Linked DNA regions of Homo sapiens. The protein of the gene in region 2 interacts with the protein of the main gene of each other region in a pairwise test. Each region holds a gene or a part of one and is shown on either strand. Other genes may lie near its edges. The genes, in order: ARL6 and ARL6IP5.

Region 1 (7,965 bases), about 29 Mb from region 2:
ATGTTTTTAAACGTGCACTTTCTATCAAGCAGTCACAATACTTAATACAACACAGAAATTAAAAATTATTCTATTTTAGAAGTAATCAATTTAGGTATGATTTAGAGAAATATAAAGGCTCTAGCTCAAGACGTTTCCTTATCCAAAATCCCACCATTCTTTACCTATCAAATACCACAGGACCCAAATTCCAACTCAAGAATCATTTATTAGACACTAACTTTTCCTCTGATCCTAGAGTAAGGAAGGTTTTACTTGGGATATGCAGGGTTTAGCTCCTGGGAAGAGGTGCTGGAGGCTCTGAATACTGGAAAGTGTCAAGAGCTTTCCTAAGGTCTTTACTATTACTCTTTCAGCGCCAAAACTAGTTCCTAAAGTTGTTTTCTGAACTCTATGACCTCCTTGCTTCATATTCTAGTTCACCCTTCTTGTGGCAGTGGATCTCTCTGCTTCTGTTTCCAATCTTCCCCACAGATACCTTCTTATAAAAAGGGGGAAACTCTGGCATGGAAAGGACCTCTTACAGCAGAGAGAGGTAGGTGGGTGGGTAGAAGGGAGTTTAAGATGGTAGTCGTAGGCACTAAAATACTATCTAATGTATAATCTCTGTTTATCCTTATTAGAATATTTTGGTAGAAAGGCACAATGGAGTTAAATAAGAAACTGTTTTCCAAACAAACAATGCATAACAATTTCAACATTAATTACTTAAGAGTTCAACCTTATTAGGATGTCTAAGTAAACTTAAAATTTCCATTTCCATTTATTCATTTTAACAAATATGTATTGTGTACCTATTACATACCAGGCACTATGACTATTGTAGGGATTATTAAAGTGAAGAAAACTGACAAAACCCCAGCTGTCAGGGAGCTAACACACCTGTATAGGCAGACAGACTATAAACAAAAAAAAAAGCAGTCACATGGTAATAGTGACTCTAGCAAGCCAGGAAAATTATTTTGGAAAATGATTCAAAGGAGGGGGATACAAGTGCACATGCTCTTAGATGGGACTGTGCTTGGCTGACTCCATGTGCAGAAGGAAATCAGTGTAGCTGAAGTCAGTAAGTAAGTGAGCTTTTAAGTTATTCCATTATAAGAGTTGTTTATATTTTCCTATCCCCCCAAAAATTTGAAAAAGGTTTTTAACAGTAATATATTTGTAAAAACCTACAATGCCACAATTCTACAAAACAAAATCCTTAGCTTATATGCCACCATGTTTGATCACTTATTTTTAAAAAATGAGATCAGAAGAAACAACTCTGAAGCTTGTATATTTTTCAGAAAGCTACAGTGAAAAGTAAATATAAAACTTTACCAAATATGCCAGGGTTTATCTTTGATGTTCTCTAAACACAGCAACTGAGACACTTTTACAGATGTCACTGCATCTCTAAGATCCATTTTATTTGCAAAGAATAAGATTGGAATTCGACGGTGTTTAATATCTAAAAGAGAAAATAAGATTATCATCACACTTCCAGCTTTTTAGGTCATTTTGCAGCAAATCTTTAGTACTGAAACCCATGAAATTTTTTTTCAATTATCTTTTTTCATATCACACACACAGAAACATTTAAAGACACATACTGTCACACTGTTAGGCATGTATTTGAGCAGTAACAAAATTTTAAAAATACTTCCTAGGACCATCTGCCCTCTGGTTAGGAGCTTTAACCAAAGATGGGTGAGGTGGGACTGGAGCTCAATAAGCATTACAGAGAAGTACCTACAAAAAAGCATTAAATATTTTGTTTCCTTTTTAATGGTGAACAGAAAGGAGGCAAACTTCAAGTAGAAGTAGAAGGAAAAGAAACTGGGAACTTATTTAAGTTTTTTGTCACAATATCATAAGTAACAAGCTAGATTTTTAAAAGATATTTTTACCTTGTCATGATTTTGGAAACATTTTTCATTTTTTTGAATAGACAATACATTTAAATAGTTCAAAATTCAGAAGATACAAAATGGCATACAGTAAAAGAATCTCCTTCCTAACTTTGTCCTAGGACAATGGTCTCTGTAGAAAAGGCAACCCATAACATCAGTGTCTTGGCATCTTCATAGAAATATTTTATGTATTTGCAAACATAATTATTATATATTATTTTCATATAGCAGGCCAACCTCATTACTTTATACCTTTATCTTTTCATTTATTTACATATCTTGGATCTGATCCCATATCAGTACATATAGAGCAGCTTCTTCATTATTTTAACCGTTCTGGAATATTTCTTCTTTTAGTACTATGTACTATTATTTAACCAGAACCCAACTGAGATACCTGTTACCAATCTTTACAACTATGAACAATCCTGTAATGAATAAATGTGTATATAGGTAATTTTGTACACCGGCCAGTATGTCCTTAGGATAAATTTAAGATGTGGAATTGTTGGGTCAAAGGACATAAATTTCTCTTTTGATAGACAGTGATTACCAAACTGCTTTCTCTTAAAAATTATATCAATTTACACTTCAACAACCACGTATAAGAATGAGTGTTTCCACTCCCCTAGCCAAAAGACTGCTATGAAACTTCTTGATATTTTCCATATCATAGGTAATAGAAAGGCCAAGAATCTTTCCATATATTCAAAAGATGTTTAAATTTATGTTTTTGTTGACTTACCTGATATGTCCTTTCCCCATTTTCTATTAAGCTTTTATATTCTTACTGATTTTTAGAAACACAAGTAGTATAGAAATATCCCTGTAGCTATGATATGAGTTGCAAATATTTTCCCTTGCCTGTCATTGTCTTTATCTGTTCACAGTACATTTTGCTATTCAAAGATTTTTTATGGCCATCAATTTTTTTAAAAAGTTCATATACACTTCAGCTGAGAAATCCCTCCCTTGGGAATCTATCCCATAAAATAAAGGAAGTAGTACATTAAGATCCATAGACAAGGCTTCAGTTGAGGAAATCAAAATCCCCATTGTTTGAAGTATATTTTATAGGAACTATTTCATTTTACTGCTCAACACTGAAACACTTTTTAGAGAAAAACTGGAAAGATTAATATGAAAGGAAGACATAATCAAAAATGCATTATCAATCTAGATACAAGACTGCTAAGTTTTTTGTTTTTTTTTTTGAGACAGAGTCTCCTCCGTTGCCCTCAGTGGTGCTATCTCAGTTCACTGCAACCTCCACCTTCCAGGTTCAGGCAATTCTCCTGCTTCAGCCTCCTGAGCATATGGGATTACAAGTGCACGTGCCTGGCTAATTTCTGTATTTTTAGTAGAGATGGGGTTTCACCATGTTGGCCAGGCTGGTCTCGAACTCCTGACCTCAAGTGATCCACCCGCCTGTAATCCCTCCCAAAGTGCTGGGATTACAGGCCTGAGCCACCACGCCCAGCCAAGACTGCTAAGTTTTTAACATTAAAAAGTCAAATAAAATGTACAGGGCGGATAATTTTTTTTCAAAAATTTCAGTAAGCTTGAGGTCATCTGTTAAAAATACCAAAGATATTGTGGTTAAGCAGTAACATTTATTAGAAAGCCCCACACTATTTCTATTTCATTTCTAACAAATCCACAGTTCTCTTAAACCACCATCCTTTTCTGAAAGTCCTAGCACAAGCACTATTTAAATTTTTTTGGCATGAGGAAGGCTAGAAATGCAGAGTTCCACAATACTTACTGGAGCACTGTTTGTAGTGGGGGCTTGGGCGGGAGGAAAGTATACATCAACAGGTGAATGATTAAATAAACTGTGGTACATTCATAGTAAACCATATTAGGCATCATTAAAAAGAATAACTACATAATTATATATAATTTGATTTGGAAGGATATCCATCATTAAGTGTTAACTGAGAATAGAAACATGCAGAAGAGTGTAAAGAATATGATTCCATTTTGGTAAATAACAATGATAGTCCCCACAGTCCTCAACCCTACAGATATTTTTGGGAGATATATATATATATATATATGAATAAATATGTAAGAAATGCTGTAATTAAACACACACAAACTCAGATACACATAGAGAAATGCATGAAAATATGGTAACAAATAATTTTAATGGGTGTTGAAATACACAGATCTTTATTTTATTTTTCCATCTGATTTTTTTTTTTTTTTTGCTTTGGTACAATTTATGTAATCAGAAAAAAGGGAATTTTTATTTTTGAGGAAATAAATGTTAGACACCCCAAAAACAATGCAAAATGCTTTACATTTACATTGCATGCAAAATTTACAAAATATGGTGATGTACATAAAATATAAATTTTGTATAACATATATGTTTTAAATTCAAAAATTTTAAATGAAAGATAATTACATAGTATAAGCAATACCCAAAGAACAAAACATTACACATAAATGAACCCCAAAGAACAGATACAGACTGAAAGACACACACATACCTGGATGATTCAGAAGAGTATCGAGTTCTTCTTTGGCCACAACCATTCTTAATCTATCACTACTATCAATGACAAAAATAATAGCTTGGCCTTCTCTGTGTAATGTAAAGAAAAAGAAAAATTAAAGCTTTACTTATAAATTTTTCCATGTTTATTATCCATGGGCATTTCCTAACCTAAGTATTATCTCCTTATGTCCTATGTCCATATATCATTAGAATTTTTGGTGTTGTTTCTTATTAGTTTATATGACTGATAAATATATTAATCATTAGTCATATTTCATGTAAAATACCTTTTCATTTGGATAATAAAGTAAATTTAATGACTTGCTACTTCATAATTTTAAAAAATGAGTAATTTTTTCATTAAAATATCAGAATATGAGAAAATGAGTTAAAATACCATAACCCTATTACACCGATGCAATAATTATTAATATTTTGGTATAAAGCTACACTTTGTGTATATTACATATGAATAAACTATATATGTATTTAAAATGGAATCCTGTATTACACCTTGCCTTTGCAATACATATGTAAATTTCCTTGATTTTTTTTTTTTTTACTACTATGGTTTTACTACTACTTTTATAAATTATTTTTACCATAAACCATAGTGAGAAATACATTTTGTATTAAGATACAGTAGACACATAGGTATATATAGATGTATTTTAAGTGAAAGTCTTCTGAAAAAATACTTACAAATAGCTTTTATTTTATTCTATTTGATTTTTTAAAAGCTGATAGCCAGTGATTGAACTAGTTAAGGATTCACCCATGGATCACATAGGCACTTGAAAAATTATTGATTATTCCTCTGCACTATCTTCTTTTAATGGTTCTAAACTATTGCACTGCATGGATGTGTCATCAAATACTGTATCAAACATTTGTTGCTGGACTTTTAGGTTATTTCCAATTTTCATCATTATGAAAAACTTTAAGGCAAATATCCTCCTACATACCTTTCTTTTAAAAAAGTTCTGATGCTTTAAGATTTATTAGAAATGTTAGGAGTAACATTTCTAAGACTACATACATAATTTAAAGTTTTAGAAAAACATTTCCAAACTGTCCTCCAGAAATGCCATATCAATTTACATGACTCAGTACTTTTCTCACTCCTTTGCCAGCACTGGCTATTATCATTATCATCATTCTTTTCAATAATTGCCATTCTAACAGCATATTATCTTGATCTAGTTCATTAATTGCCAATGAGGTTCAATATCTTTTCATATATTTATTGGACATCTGTACTTTTTTTTGCGAATCACTTAATCATAAATTAAGTATTTAAACTGCAATGTGATTAATAATCAAATGATATACAAAATAAAACTTTTTATATACCATTTTCTCCTATCATTAAAAAAGGATAATGCTGATTATCACAGACATACATTACCAGTACATATAGAAACCAGAACAATCAAAGTACCTATCAAGATCTATAAAAACGTTCAATCACTTTGAGCCAGTGATTTTATTTCTGAAATTCATTCTAAGGAATCACGAACTGGGGCTAAGATTTATACAAGATTTTGACTGAAGGACTGTTTACAATTTTCAAAAACAGAATAGCCTTCATGTCCTAGAGTAGAGAAATGGTTAAAGAAATTTTGGCAAAGCTGTGTGAAAAAATATTAGGCAGCTGTTAGTTATATTCATTGCATGTTTTTCCTGATTTACCCTTACCACATGTTAACTGAAAAAAGCAAGATACAAAATTATACATGGTACATAATTTAGATGGTTCCTTTTTCCTTAGTTATATAAAGTATATGTTATATATTTCAAAAGGAGGAGAAAGATACCAAAAAGATTGACAATGGTGAATTTATGAATAGTGAGATTTATGGGAAACATGTTTTCAATATTCTCTTCTATATTTTCCAAATTTAAAAAATGTGTACTCCTTATATTTTTGCATGCTATTACCTTTTTATATTGTAAAAATAGTATGTAAAAATTATATAATATTTAACATTATGGCATCATATAGATGAGAAAGTAAATGTCTCTCTTCACCAAACAGGATGTGAAAAAAAAAAGAAAAGAAAAATAAAAGAAAGTAAACTTCCCTTATAATCCTACTATTCCAAAAATAAATGCTACTAATGGTTTGGTGCATAATCCACTAAGAACTTTCTTCTTTCTATACATAGTAAGTACATATTTATAGCAAATGTAAATTTCCTTGATTTTTTTTTTTTACTACTATGGTTATATATATAGCAAAGATAAATATTTATAGTAACATTTTTACATAATTGATATAAAAATGTTATAAATAATGCTAACATACAACCTTCTATGTATATTTTTTTGCCCATAAGCCCTGGTCATAGAATACTTTTCTAAAAGTAAAAATGCTTGCTGGAGTTTATAAACATTTTTCATTTTAACAGATATCAATAAATTACCCTGAAAAAGATATTACATTCTCACAGGAGTGGCTCACTTTGACAAGAGCATACTTTATTAATCTTTGTAACCTTTTTCAGTCTAATAGATCAAAATGTACTTGTTTTGTTTCACAGTTAGAAAAGTACGAAAATAGGGAAAGTAAATTTACTTTTATTGTTGATTTTTCAATAGTAATCATATTCTCCATTCAATCTACAATGTAACCACTCTATTCTAGAATTCATAAATTTCATCCAAAAACAGTACAAAGAAAAAAGGAGTTAAAATCAAATAAAAACAAAGTTTACTTTCCTACTATTTTCTCTCTATATATATTTTTGTAATTAAAATTAAAGTATTTTTAAAGTAGCTAAATACATTTTTAAAAGGAATTATTTATCAACTAATTGGAGGAGGAATTTAAAAAATCCTGTACTGAAAACTCAGGTTTCCTAAACACACAAACAAATAAGAAACACATAAAATGCATCTCCCCAAGGAATTTAATGCAGAATACCACAAACATGCCACTTTTCCTTTTCCAAACTAACCCTCGAATCTGAAGCACTCTCTTTTCCCTCTCTCTCAGAAGTCTTCTGGACCTACGATTTAAATAGGCCTTCAATTTATTGAAGGACTCATTGAAAAAAAAATTTGAATAAATTTCCTCTGGTTCATATCCCAAATATATACCATTTAATGTTTGGTCTCACATTATTAGGAAAGAGTTAATCTAAATCTAAATCTTATCTGGTAAATATCACATACCATTTCAAGGCAGCAGTTCATAATGACAAAAGAGAGTTTAGTTAAGAGATAGTGTTTTTAAGTTTCAGACTCTAAAAGTGAAATACATTGCTCTTAAATGAAGTCCTAACAATATTAGAAGCTAATGAATTTATTTTATTACCATATGCAAATCTCCAGAAGGTATAACACATTTGGGTCCTAGTAACTTGACAGCTATTAGTCTGAAGTATAGTCATCCCTCCGAATTGGCGAGGGATTGGTTCCAGGATCCCCTTCAAATACCAAAATCTGCAGATGCTCAAGTCTCTTATATAAAATGGCTTAGTATTTGCTTATAACATATGCAAATTCTTCCATATTCTTTAAATCACCCTAGATTACTTATAATACGTAATACAATGCCTA
Region 2 (7,965 bases):
GAGGCCCAGAGAAGAAACATATCCAAAGGGATCCAGGAGAGAAACAAGAAAACAAGGGTGCCAGTTGTGGCAGCAACTCACAGTAGAACCCATTCTGTCATGTTAACCGGCTTTAAGGATTTCCCCCACACTCTAAGTAACCTACTATAACCAAGGATCATCCTGGAAAATCCCTCTGCACTCTCATTTCTCTCTGAAACAAGGTGGCTATTAGTGGGTGTGGATACAGGTCCTAAACTTCCCAACGTGATTCAGTAGCTATGTCTATAGTTTTACCACAAGTTACTGAAAGGGGAAAAAAAAATCTCACAAAATTTTAGAGCTAGGAAGGATCTTGCTAACCCACCTCATTTTACACGTAAGCAAGCTAAAGAATATACAAGTTAATAAATTTGTCCAAGGCCACCAATTGCAAAGTTGGCAATAAAAGTTTGCCATAACAGAAATCCTCGGATCAACTCAAGGCCACATTTGGTGACTCCTGTCAGGCTGCAAGGCCAAAAAGAACCACCAAAGAGGCAGCAAAATATTTCCTGAGGAGTACAGGCAGCTTTGCACTGAGTTCCAATTTTCTAGCCGAAAAAGCTATTTTTGAAGTGTGGTTTCTGAGGAAGGCTGACTCACCGAAAAAGTGGGGAACAATATACTCACGGTGGACTTCTCTAAATTGGCGATGTTTCTCTGTGGTCCTTAATCAGCCAGAGGGATCACTGCAAATATGAACCCACCCAACCATTTTCTTTTCATTGTTCTTAAACTAAAAACAGAATTCTTTAAACATTCTACAAGGCTTCGCAGGGTCTGGCCCCTGCCTGCCTCTGCAGCCAGGGCCACTGTATATAGGTGTGGAGTTGGTGCCTGGCTGAGGGGGTAAGTGGGGCCTGGAATCCAGGTCACACACTCCACAAGCCAAGGCCAAAATTTGGCTTTGGCTGTAACTGCTAGGAGAGGAAGAAGTGCCTTAGTAATTAGCATGAGGGAACTCTCAGGGCTAGCAGCTGGCCTACCTGCCAGGTTTGTCACACCATCTCCTGATTGCACCCCCATCCACTCAGGGTTTCTATCTACCCCAGAACTCACCTTGCCTTTTGCCATCTCAGGGTGAGGTGAATCAGGCAGAGAGGATACTTTGCACACAGGCCTCACTCCACCCTCCTTCAAGTCTCAGCTCAGCCAGCCTTTCCTCAGTCTCTCTGACCAGAGCACAGCTCCATATGCCTTTTCTTTTCTTTCCTCAAGAAAGGTTCTTCCTCTGTCACTCAAGCTGGAGTATGATGGCATGGTCATAGCTCACTGCAGCCTCTTTCTCCCACACTCAAGTGACCTTCCTCAGCCTTCTGAGTAGCTGAAACTACAGACTACAGGTGAGTGCCAGCTTGCCTGGCTAATTTTTAATTTTTTTCTTTTCTTTTCTTTTTTTTTTTTTTTTGAGACAGAATCTCCCTCTGTCGGCAGGCTGAAGTGCAGTGACACAATCTTGGCTCGCTGCAACCTCTGACTCCCTGGTTCAAACAATTCTCCTGCCTCAGCCTCTCCAGTAGCTGGGATTAAAGCATGCGCCACCACACCCAGCTAATTTTTACATTTTTAGTAGAGACGATGTTTCACCATGTTGGCCAGGCTGGTCTCGAACTCCTGACCTCAAGTGATCTGCCTGCCTCAGCCTCCCAAAGTGGAGAGCTATTTTTGACTATAGGCATAAATGTGGGCTTTGGACACAAATTCGTCTTGAGTAAATGAGAACAGTGTCTCCTTGGCCTAAGGATCATGGAATAAAGGAGACTGTACAGTAGGTAAAACTGAACAGGAGCCTGTCTCTTTTGTTACAGAAAGGTCATAGTGAGATTTTCCTAACCAACTGAATTAGGAAGGCCTAGAGGATTTATTGTATTCTTGCCATTCCCTAAATATTTACTGTATCCTGTGTAATTTGGCACAAATTAAACACTCGCATCCAAACCAACCATTGTCTTTTTAACAGTTGGCATGTTAAAAGTGTTCATACTAAGACATGCCTTAGGAACCTCCAGATTTTCTTTTGTTTTTAATAAACAACAGGTTGGACTCGGATTAGAAACCATAAATCTGACGCTTCCCACAGTGACGGAGCTTCAAATAATAGTTGTGTACAAAGCTCTGATTAGACTTCATAAAACCCTTTTTAACTTTTCATTATGGAAAACTAACATATACATAGGTAGAGAGAATAATGTATAATGAATCTTCATGTATGCTCATCACTGCTTTCACAATTAGCAACCCATGGTTACTCTTAACAACCAATACTTTTTGGGGAACAGAAGTGGAAAGATATTTGTTTACAAACTGTTCTTCTTGAATGATTTTAGAAAATTAAAAAAAAAAAAAAAAGGCTGGGTACAGTGGCTCACACCTGTAATCCCAGCACTTTGGGAGGCTGAGGTGGGGGGATAACTTGAGGCTAGGAGTTCGACACCAGCCTGGCCAACATGGTGAAACCCCGTCTCTACTTAAAAATACAAAAATTAGCCAGGCATAATTGTGTGTGCCTGTAATCACTTAAAAATACAAAAATTAGCCAGGCATAGTTGTGCGTGCCTGTAATCCCAGCTACTTGGAGGCTAAGGCAGGAGAATCGCTTGAACCTGGGAGGCAGAGGTTGTAGTGAGCCAAGATCCTGCCATGGCATCCAGCTTGGGCGATGCAGAGAGACTCTGTCTTAACAAAACAAAACAAACAAAAGCTACTGAGAACTGTCACATGGCAAATTCTTACAGAGCTGTGGAGAGAAGACAGGGGCTGGACAAATGCTAACGAGCTTGGTAACACAGACTTCCTTCTCACAAGTTTCCTGTCTATTTACCCCTCACTAACCCCCAATTTCTGCATTCTTTTTCCTCTGAGACAAGGAGAAGCTGCACCAATGAGATATGAAGCAGATTAGAAGAAGCAGGGCTTTCTGCCTTCCAGGTGTCTCCTTTAGCAAATTGCATAACGAGAAGGAAGGCCAGGAAATCCTATCATATATCAATGATGAATGCTTGCAAACCTGAAGTTGTTAGCCTGAAGGTTTTGCCTAAAATTACAGGGCTTGAAGGCATTCTCAGAAACAGGAAGCCACGCTCATTTCAAGAGACAGAGGATGGTATTAAGGGTGAAGGCATTCTCAGAAACAGGAAGCCACGCTCATTTCAAGAGACAGAGGATGGTATTAAGGGTTAAGTTTTCTGAAGCTGAGTGATAAGGATAGAATTCATTTGTCCAAAAAATAAAAAATACAAAATTTCCAATATTGATGCTTAATTAGATATTAAGTGGGTAGGTCAAGAATGGGTCTTGACCTTTTTGAACTGGATTTCCTGTACAGAGCTCTCTGTCCCTAAGCTGATGGAGAGCTTCTCCTTTCTAAGACAGGGGGCCAGGAATCCAAAATACACTCATTTATTTGCACACTTACCTAGAATCATTGTAAATCCTTACCTAGGGAAAGGAAACAGAAACTACCAACCAAAGGCCAAAAGTAGCAGGCAACATTGAAAAAAAAAAAAAAAAAAAAGCTGGACGGAGAGGGGAGAGAAGTTCAGATAAACAAAGTTACATAAATAGTATCAAAGGTGTGCCAGCCATACCTCTCGCCTGTCATCCCAGCACTTTCGGAGACCAAGGCAGGAGGATTGCTTGAGCCCAGGAGTTCGAAACCAGCCTGGGCAACATGGCAAAAACCCTTCTCTACAAAAAAAAATACAACAATTAGCCAGGCTGGTGGCACATGCCTATAGTCCCAGCTACTTAAGATGCTGAGGCAGGAGGATCACCTGAGCCCAGGGAGGTAGAGGCTGTAGTGAGCCATGACTGCGCCACCATACTCCAGCCTGGGCAATAGAGTGAAACCCTGTCTCAAAATATATATATATGTATGTATATACACACACATATACACACATACACTGTCAGAGGTTATTTAATGAAAAGCAATCCTTATTAAAGATTTATATTTACTTATTTATTTTTTACACGGCGTCTCACTCTGTTACCCAGGCTGTAGTGCAGTGGCGTGCGTTCTTGGCTCATTGCAACCTCCGCCTCCCACGCTCAAAAGATCCTCCCACCTCAGCCTCCCAAGTAGCTGGGACCACAGATGCATGCCACCACGCCAGGCTAATTTTTTCTATTTTTGGTAGAGATGGGGTTTCGCCATGTTGCCCGGGCTGGTCTTAAACTCCTGAGCTTAGGTGATCTACCCGCCTCGGCCTCCCAAAGGGCTGGGATCACAGGCGTGAGCCATCATGTCCAGCCTAGATAAAGATTTTGAGATTAAAATGTTACTGTGTGTTGACAGACCTCTTAAAGTTCTGTATTCAGAAGAAACACATAAGCCATCAGAGGAAGACAGGTGCCAGCCTCAAATGCAAATAAATGGGCATCGAAGGGCAGGAGAATTCTGGGAGGATTTGGGAAGGCTGGTGGAGTTGTACTCCTGACTGTATCCTCAGGGCCTAGACAGTGTCTACCACATGGTAGGTGCTCAGTATTTGTTCAATGGAATAGAAGGATCTGAGCTGTGGGTTAGGATAGTAAAATTTAAAAAAACCTTTTTCCTGTCTACATACTCAATGCCTCCCCTATTCCCAACACCTGAGAGATTTGGAATTTGGAGTAATAATGTACAGGGGAGATCAGGTAAGTCAGGTTGAGAAGGATGTGTTTATGTAGGTGTGTATTTCTGTACACTTGCTATACTTGTATACAAATTAGTTATCATGTGTTCAGTGTGGTCTTGCTGCCTTTCCGTGAAGGCAGGAATCACAGCTGTCCTATTCTTCACTATCTCCTAGCAGTGTCTGAGAAGTTGGTAAGTGCTTCATACTCTTTGTTAATTGAATGAATGAAGCAACACAAATAAGAGTAATGTTGTAGAACTGGTGTTGAAGCTGACTAATCTCAAAAACATTTCCACTTGCTTTAGTATAAACAGACTGCAACTCATTCTATCTGCAATCATTTCAATAGATTCTGATCCAGAGCCTCCCAGGGTTGCCTTACGCTTTTTTTCCTCTACCAACTGGAAACTTGGTTCTTCATCTTTACAGCATTTAAAGGTACAAACAATACGAACATTTCATAATACCAGATGCTGGGAGCCACAGGCCTAGAACATATTACAGAGCCACCAAGCCACGTTCATTTTGAAAAGATTACATTAATGCTGTTTTCAAACTTATAATTACCAGCCTTCTAGAAACTCCTTACCATCTTGAGTAACTGAAAGCATAAAGTGGCAGCTGTCAATTCCACCCTCCTGCAACATCTCCATAGGCCAAATGATCAGGCCACATGGTGAGGAGTTACTTCAGCTGAGAAATCATGGGCTCATTCCTTCAGCAGCTACATGGTTCTATCTAAAGGGGGAGGCACAAATGTATATACATAAGAATACATGCAGCTCTCTTGCTGGAGAAGCAGCAGAGGCATTTTTATATGTTGCAAATTCTGTGTGTGGTTGGTGATTCTGAGGCCATACCAGAAAATATGAGTTCTAATGGCAGAAAATAATTTTTTTTTTTTTTTTTTTTAGACAGGGTTTCACTATGTTGCCCAGGCTAGTCTTAAACTCCTGGCCTTGAGCAATCCTCCCATCTCTGCCTCCCGAAGTGTTGGGATTACAGGTGTGAGCCACTATACCCATCCAGGAAAGAACTTTTCAGAATAAGACAGCAATAGCATTGCAAATATTGTAAGAGTCAGGGATGCAGTTGAATTTGGTTAATCAAGAGCTTTAGAAAATTTGCAATATGGCTTAATGGAAAAAATATTTCACTTCCTATTATTAGCAGCTTTAGTTCCAATTAGCCTGTGACCTCGAGCTTTTACATTTCAGAAGTTACGGGGTTCAAGAGGATCAGTATTTCTCCTAGGGGTGTATAATCACAATCACTTAGGAAGTTAGAGAAAAAGAAAAAAACAACAGATGCCTGGACCCTGCCAAGAACTATACATTTTGAATCACGGAAGGTGACACCTGGGCATATAGGTATATTTATTTAAATTTTCTTTTGAGCCAGACCAATCCAGTGCCTCTCAGATTTTAATGTACCTATGAATCATCTGAGACTTTTGTTAAAATGTAGATTCTAACCCAGTAGGTCTGAAATGGGGCCTGAGATGCTTCACTTCTGACAAGCTCTCAGGCGAAAGATGCTGCTGTTCCATGGCTCACACACTGAACAGAGTTCTCCAGCTCAAATCATTTGGCATTCCATTAAGCACAAAGAAGTTTTCATCCACAACTAGAATGTATCACACGCTTAGTACTTAAATTGCAAGTGTCATTAGGTGTTGCCTTTGTTTTTCACTTTGAAGATCAAGGTAGAGACTTCTATTGTTGTGTGTGATGTGAAAAGAATATCTTAATCCCAAAACGTCTCACATCAAGGATGCAGAAGGTAAGCTATGGCAACTTCGATCTTAGACACTTTTCCTTCTTGATGTAAAGGATCCAAAGGCATTTCCAGCAAAACGCAAGTTTCCTAGCCTGTTATTCATGCTATTCCTTTTAAATAATTCAATCTCTTCTGATCAGAAGTTTAAACACAGATTTATCTCTATCCTAATCCCTCTTAATCTCCGTCTTGGTATGGGCAGTTTTTTCCAGTGTTTCTGGATCTAGATAGTATTTGCTATGTTCTTCCCTCACCCTTCCTGAAATCTTGAAGAGGAGGCCCTCTCTATCCTCATCTAAGCCAGTTTCCAACATTGGAGAGCTGAGGCTAGAGCACTCCTACAATGCCCTTGAGGCTCTCCTCACCAGCAGGGGATGGAACCATTGTTGAACACTCTTTTATCCAGGTCACATTTTCACATATACTCTACCAAGATATTCTGAGAAACTAGAGAGAAGTCTGTGGAGGATCCAGATGAACAGCTGCCAGCACTGCTCTGACCTACCCATCTACTAGCATCACCGAAAGAGGATAGTTCTCTTTAGAATGAGAAGTGTTCTGGAATCAAGGACGCTCCCTAACTCTGAAGATGTTTGGTTTCTTCCTTGTGACTCATAGTAAGACAGAACAGTAGTTAAGAGCACAAGCCTAAGTTTGTGACTTTGAGTAAATCATTTAACCTCTCTGAGCCTCAGGTTTAATGATAAAAAAAAAGTAACAGTTTTTTAAAATTGGGTTCTATGACATAATGCAGGTAAAATACTTTGCAAGGTACCTGACACACAGAGCACTCAATAAATATTTATATTATTAAATGATAAAGAAAGAAAAGAGAACAACTGGTGGAAAAAACTACTGACTGTGCTTATAGTTGCATAGAAAACAGTTAGGGGTTATATACCAAACTTTTACTGAAGTATGAAGGAAATTTCACATTTTATCCACATAATTTTCAAATCAACCTTTACTACTAGCCTGTATCTTTTGTAAGTTTTTAAAAATAAGGATAAGTTTTAAAAACTTCATGGCTACTTTTCACTTTTTCACTTCAAAATTTTCATTGACAACCAACAACTCTTATTTGAAAGGAAAATGAGGAGGGCCAACACCCCTAAACTACCTGAGTTAGTGGCCTAAGGCACAATACTGACGGAGCTATATTTAGTCAAAGGGCTGGCCCCTGGCCTTCACAGTGAAAAATGGATTCTATCAAAAGCAGCAAGGCTGTCTGAGCTTGTGCCTGGTCTGGGCAGCACACATGTCTGAAGAAAATAGACTTTTTTTTTTTTTTAATTATTGGTCTGTGTCAAACTTTGCCCCACATCTAAGTTACCTCAAGAAAATACCTCCATAACTAGATCACCAGATAAGATGCCCTCCTGCTTCTTTGCAAAGAGAAAGAAAAAAACAAAAATTGATGCAAACCTATTTACTACTTATTTTGTTTTAAAGACTTTTTTGGCCAGGCACAGTAGCCCCCGCCTGCAATCTCAGTGCTTTGGGAGCCAAGGTGGAAGGATGGCTTGAGCCCAGAAGTCAAGACCAG

Evidence for each region.
Region 1: the proteins of ARL6IP5 (region 2) and ARL6 interact in a two-hybrid assay, tested with the Homo sapiens proteins (one study listed by BioGRID).

Annotation. Positions count from the first base shown.
Region 1 is NC_000003.12:97,781,478-97,789,442, reverse strand, and holds part of ARL6 (ADP-ribosylation factor-like protein 6), read right to left. Parts: intron 4,489-7,965; coding exon 4,394-4,488; intron 1,454-4,393; coding exon 1,324-1,453; intron 1-1,323. UniProt on the Homo sapiens protein: Involved in membrane protein trafficking at the base of the ciliary organelle. Mediates recruitment onto plasma membrane of the BBSome complex which would constitute a coat complex required for sorting of specific membrane proteins to the primary cilia.
Region 2 is NC_000003.12:69,087,225-69,095,189, reverse strand, and holds part of ARL6IP5 (PRA1 family protein 3), read right to left. Parts: intron 1-7,965. UniProt on the Homo sapiens protein: Regulates intracellular concentrations of taurine and glutamate. Negatively modulates SLC1A1/EAAC1 glutamate transport activity by decreasing its affinity for glutamate in a PKC activity-dependent manner.